2 separate regions of the Homo sapiens genome follow, and region 2 is linked to region 1. The links come from fine-mapping of genetic effects on gene expression. Tissue or cell type: whole blood. Region 1 holds a variant in brackets; the other region holds the start of a gene. All regions are shown on one strand. Distances are from middle to middle.

Evidence for each region. PIP is the estimated chance that this variant, and not a neighbour inherited with it, causes the effect.
Region 2: it holds the start of TJP3, and the variant in region 1 is fine-mapped to the expression of TJP3 in whole blood (INTERVAL, PIP above 0.99).

Annotation. Positions count from the first base shown.
Region 1 is chr19:3,796,247-3,798,925 of GRCh38, forward strand. It overlaps a transcript of MATK not described here. Among named protein-coding and RNA genes, the nearest start is that of MATK, 11 kb to the left of the region's middle. The variant C/T (reference allele first, on the strand shown) is at 1,236.
Region 2 is chr19:3,706,959-3,709,637 of GRCh38, forward strand. It overlaps TJP3 (tight junction protein 3), which reads left to right and starts at 1,426. Exons shown (of 21, transcript NM_001267560.2): 1 at 1,426-1,603. RefSeq lists enhancers at 871-1,534, 1,535-2,196.

The DNA.
Region 1 (2,679 bases):
CTGAAGACAAAGCAATATAATGTCCCACTCCTCAGGGGTTGCTGTTGCTGTTTTCAGGTATTTACCTCCATAGTTCCAAGTAATGTGTTTTACACATCCCTTGATTTATCAGTTGGATGTTGTCCATTGACTTCCTATTCCAGAAGGTCAAGATTTAGCTCTCTTAGGCATTCTGCTCCCCCAACAGTTAAATCACAATTTTTGCTTAAATGAAAATTCAGTGCTTATAGTATATATATTAATATAAATATTATTGACAGTGGAGCAATGTATACTAAGAACATTATTTTCTGGGACCTGCTTTTTTATTTCCCTGGAGTTAGTCATCGCCTTGGTTTTATGTGTCTGTGACTCTTTCCCCCAGCCTCTCCACCAGAACTGACATCTCCACTCAGGACTTTCTCCTACTGCCCAGCTGTGATCCTGGCCCCTCTCTTCTTCGGCACAAGGGGATTCTTAGATATAGCTCCTGTTTCTTGGGTGTGGGTCTCCCTGTTTCTTGGTTTGGTCCCTTGTTTTAGGAATGTGCTCCCCCTAGGGTTTCCAGAGAAAGTGTTTTCCTCCTACTCTCCTGGGTAATTAGAGGTTTGGCTGACAGTATTGTAGGTGGATACTTTTCTTTTGCCCAATGTTTTCCAGCTTCTAGTCTTGGGCAGCTGAATGATCAGAAGTTGTCCTGTTTCCTCATACTTTGCCTGTCCCATGGTTAATTTCTGTCTCTCTCTCTCTCTTTCTGGAAGCTTGTAGAATCTTCTTGTTCCCTACATCCTGCACTTTCACAGTGGTGGGTTTGGTGTGGGTCTGTTTTCAACCATTGTGCTGAGTACTTGGTGGGCTCTTTCCTGTGTTCTCTTCCTGGCAAACTTTCTTGAATGATATCATTGGTGATTTCTTCCACTTTGGTTTCTCTGGCGTGTTTGTGGAACACGTTATTGTCATAGGGTGGACTTCTTGGATTGATGTTTTCATTTTCTTGCCTACCTTCCCCCCCACCCCCCCACTTTCTACTTTTTCTTCCAACCCTTCTATTGACATTTTAATTTTGACTATTAATTTTTTTTTTTTTTTGAGACAGGGTCTCACTCTGTTGCTCAGGCTGGAGTGCAGTGGTGCAATCACAGCCCACTGCAGCCTCGACCTCCTGGGCTCAAGTGATCCTCCTGCCTCAGCCTCCCAAGTAGCTGGGACTACAGGTGCCTGCCACCATGCTGGCTAATTTTTTTGATTTTTAGTCT[C/T]ACTATGTTTCCCAGGCTGGTTTCAAACTCCTGAGCTCAAACAATCTGCCTGCCTCAGCCTCCTGGAGTGTTGGGATTACAGGCATGCACCACCACACCCAGTGACTGTCAGAGTTTTAATTTCCAAGAGCTCTTTCTGGTTCTTTTACCGTTCCTCTTTAAAGGACAAACTTGGCTGTGTGTGGTGGCTCACGGAGCTCAGGAGTTTGAGACCAGCCTGGGCAACATAGTGAGACCCCAATCTCCAAATAATATGTAAATAAATAAAAGAATTTCTTGGCCCAGTGCAGTGGCTCACACCTGTAATCCCAGCACTTTAGGAGTCTGAGGCTGATGGGTCACCAGAGGTCAGGAGTTCGAGACCAGGCTGGCCAACATGGTGAAACCCCATCTCTACTAAATATACAAAAATTAGCCGGGCATGGTGGCTCATGCCTATAATCCCAGCTACTTGGGAGGCTAAAGGAGGAGAATCGCTTGAACCTGGGAGGTGAAGTTTGCAGTGAGCCAAGAACACATCACTGTACTCCAGCCTGGGTGACAGAGGGAGACTCCATCTCAAAAAATAAAAAATAAAAATAAATAATAAATAAATAAGTAAATAAATAAAGGCAAACTTATACTTGTTTCCTGGCTGTTATATCCTCTATGAGCTCTCCGAGGATAAGATGCATACAGGTTTTGTTTTTTTCTGTTCTGTGTTTGAATCAGGAACATAAGGATTTTTCTAGAACTGTTTTCTTCTGCCCTCTTTGTCTCTCCTTCAGGTTACTTTTCTTTTCTCTTTGTGGGTTTTGGTCTCTCTGTTGACTAACAATTATGATGGAGTGCTACAGAGCTGACGGAAGCCTCCTCACCACAGGGCGGCCTCACTGTGGGGTGGTTGGCGGGTGGGGGTGGGGGTCACTGGGCAGGAATCCCGAAACATTGGCAGCATCTGGAAGGCTTTTCTCATAGCCTGGCATCCAGCGTTCTAGAAGCCACAAGAGGTTAGACATCTGGGGTTGTGACTTTAATGGCCTGGATTTTTTATTTTTTTTATTTTTTTGAGACAGAGTTTTGCTCTTATTGCCCAGGCTGGAGTGCAATGGCACAGTGTCAGTTCACTGCAATCTCTGCTTCCCAGGTTCAAGTGATTCTCCTGCCTCAGCCTCCCAAGGCTGGGATTACAGGCATGTGCCACCAAGCCTGGCTAATTTTTTTTTTTTTTGGTAGAGACGGGATTTCACCATGTTGGTCAGGCTGGTCCTGAACTCCTGACCTCAGGTGATGCACCTGCCTCAGCCTCCCAAAGTGCTGGGATTACAGGCGTGAGCCACCGTGCCCGGCCTGTTTTTTTTTTAAGGCAGGGTCTCACTCTGTCGTACAGGATGGAGTGCAGTGGCGTGATCATAGGTCACTGCAGCCTCAACCTCCAGGGCTCAAGTGATCCTCCTGCCTCAGC
Region 2 (2,679 bases), 89 kb before region 1:
TCTCTGCAGCCTCAACCTCCCAGGGTCAATTGATCCTCCCACCTCAGCCTCCTGAGTTTCTGGGACTACAGGTGTGTACCACCACATCTGGCTAATTTTTAAAAAAGTTTTCTGGGCTGGGCGTGGTGGCTCACGCCTGTAATCTCAGCACTTTGAGAGGCCAAGGCAGGCGGATCACCTGAGGCCAGGAGTTCAAGACCAGCTTGGCCAATATGGTGAAACTCCGTCTCTACAAAAATACAAAAATTAGCTGGGCATGATGGCTGGTGCCTGTAATGCAATCCCAGCTACTCGGGAGGCTGAGGCAGGAGAATCACTTGAAACCGGGAGGCAAAGGTTGCAGTGGGCCGAGATCAAGCCATTGCACTCCAGCCTGGGCAACATAGCAAGACTCTGTCTCAAAAAAATAAAAAAAAAATAAAATAAAAACAAAAAACAAAACAAAACCAACAACAGCCAGCAGCAACAACAAAAAAACTTTTCTAGGCCAGGCTCGGTGGCTCACGCCTGTAATCCCAACACTTTGGGAGGCCGAGGCGGGCAGATCACTTGAGGTCAGGAGTTTGAGACCAGCCTGGCCAACATAGGAAAACCCCGTCTCTACTGAAAAAAAAAAAAAAAATTAGCTGGGCGTGGTGGTGCACGCCTGTAATCCCAGCTACTTGGGAGGCTGAGGCAGAAGAATCACTTGAACCCAGGAGGCGGAGGTTGCAGTGAGCCGAGATCGCGCCACTGCACTCCAGCCTGGGTGACAGAGGGAGACTCCATCTCAAAACAAACAACAAACAAAAGATATATAAAAATTTTTCTAGAGATGGGTTTCACCGTGTTACCCAGGCTGGTCTCAAATTCCCAGGCTCAAGTGATCCTCCCACCTCGGCCTCCCAAAGTGCTGGAATTACAGGTGTGAGCCACCACACCTGACCCTTTCTTGTTTTTTAGATGAGGACAGCAAGAAGCCCCTGTAATTTGCCCAAAGCCACACAGCGGGGAAGTGGCAGAAGCTTCTGTACGTAGGAACCCAGTCACTTCGTAGCAGAGAGGCAGACTGCGCACAGATCTGCGTGGGGAAGGGAGTGCGCCAAGCCACAGCCTGATGGGCCGGCGTGCCTGGCAGGAGGCTCAGCAAGCACAGAGACTGGGCAGCTCCAGATGCAAGAAGCAGGAGGGAGGGGGACTCCGGGAGTGCGGTCCATTCATGTCTGAATGTAGCCAACGAGGGTTTCCTAAGCACCTACCATGTGCGGACGCTTGATACCAGGGCCTCGGCGGTGAGGGCACAGGCAGGAGCAAGCTCACCTCTGGGCAAGCAGGGGTTAAGGCCAGTTGCTCCCACGTGAGGGCACCTTGCGACAGAGCCACACACCCAGTCCTCCTGCTGGCCCGCCCCTCACCCTGGTCCGTCTCCCTGTGTCTGTGGTCGTCAGTTCCACTGGCAGGGGACCTGCCTCCCTGTTGCCACCACAAGAGAGGAAAAGTTGGTCAAACAGGTGGGGAGGCCAGAGCTACAAGCCTCGGGTTCCCTCCCCACCACCCGTGCCAGGCAGGCACCCGGGCCCTGGCACCTGCTGCCTGCCCAGAGGCCACCCAGCCTCCTAGACAGGTAAGTCCCCCGCCCCACTGTGCTTTTCCACCCAGTGTGCATTGTCTGAGCTGGCCTTCCCCAGCTGAGGGTCCTTAGACTCCCCCCCAACCTCCCCCACCACGAGCTGTCTCCCCGGCTCCTCGGAAAGCAGGAAACTGACACTCCTGCGTGGGCATCTGACATAGTTTCGTAGGGATTATCTGACCGGCAGTTACTGCACCTGGCGGCCTGCCCAGGACGCTGAGCTGGAAACTTAAAAGGGTCATTGTTACCTAGGTGGCGCAGGGACCGGGGAGGCGGCAAAGGGGCACAGGTTGGTCTCTGATCCCCCTAACTGAGGAGGGGAGGGGATATCAGTCCAGACGGAGCCTGGGTTTACCTCCTGCAGCCCGAGGCTAGGAGGTGACAGGTGGGAAAGGCTGCGACCTCACTCATCTCTGAGCCTCCTGGAACTTCTTAAAAGGCTCCCAAGTTTTGAAACAACTGCGTCTCCCGCCCCCCAACCCCTCACCCTGTTCTCACCGCTGGAACCTCCAGGAGCTTTGCAGGGAGGGATTGGGGTGGCCTTTCTTTTGCTAATTTTTTTTTTGAGACGGAGTTTTGCTCTTGTTGCCCAGGCTGGAGTGCAGTGGTGCGATCTTGGCTCACTGCAACCTCTGCCTCCACCTCTGCCTCCCGAGTAGCTGGGATTACAAGCGCCCACCACTATGCCCAGCTAATTTTTGTATTTTTAGTAGAGATGGGGTTTCACCATGTTGGCCAGGCTGGTCTCGAACTCCTGACCTCAGGTGATCCAACCCCCTCGGCCTCCCAAAGTGCTGGGATTACAGGCGCAAGCCACTGCGCCCAGACTTCTTTTTCTAATCTTTACTCCTCCGAGCAAAATCTCTGTGGGATGGGGCAGAGGGGAAGGAGGAAGGAGCGCTCAGAGCCAGAGAGGGGAGGGGTCGGCAGCAAAAGTGTTTTTCTGGGTCATTTGCTCCCAAATGGGAAGACCAAGGGAGCTTCCTCGTGAGCCAAGTGTCCGATTGCATCTCAAGTCTCTCTCCAGAACCAAGAGGGTCCCCCGGGGCCGAGGAGGCATGGATGATCGC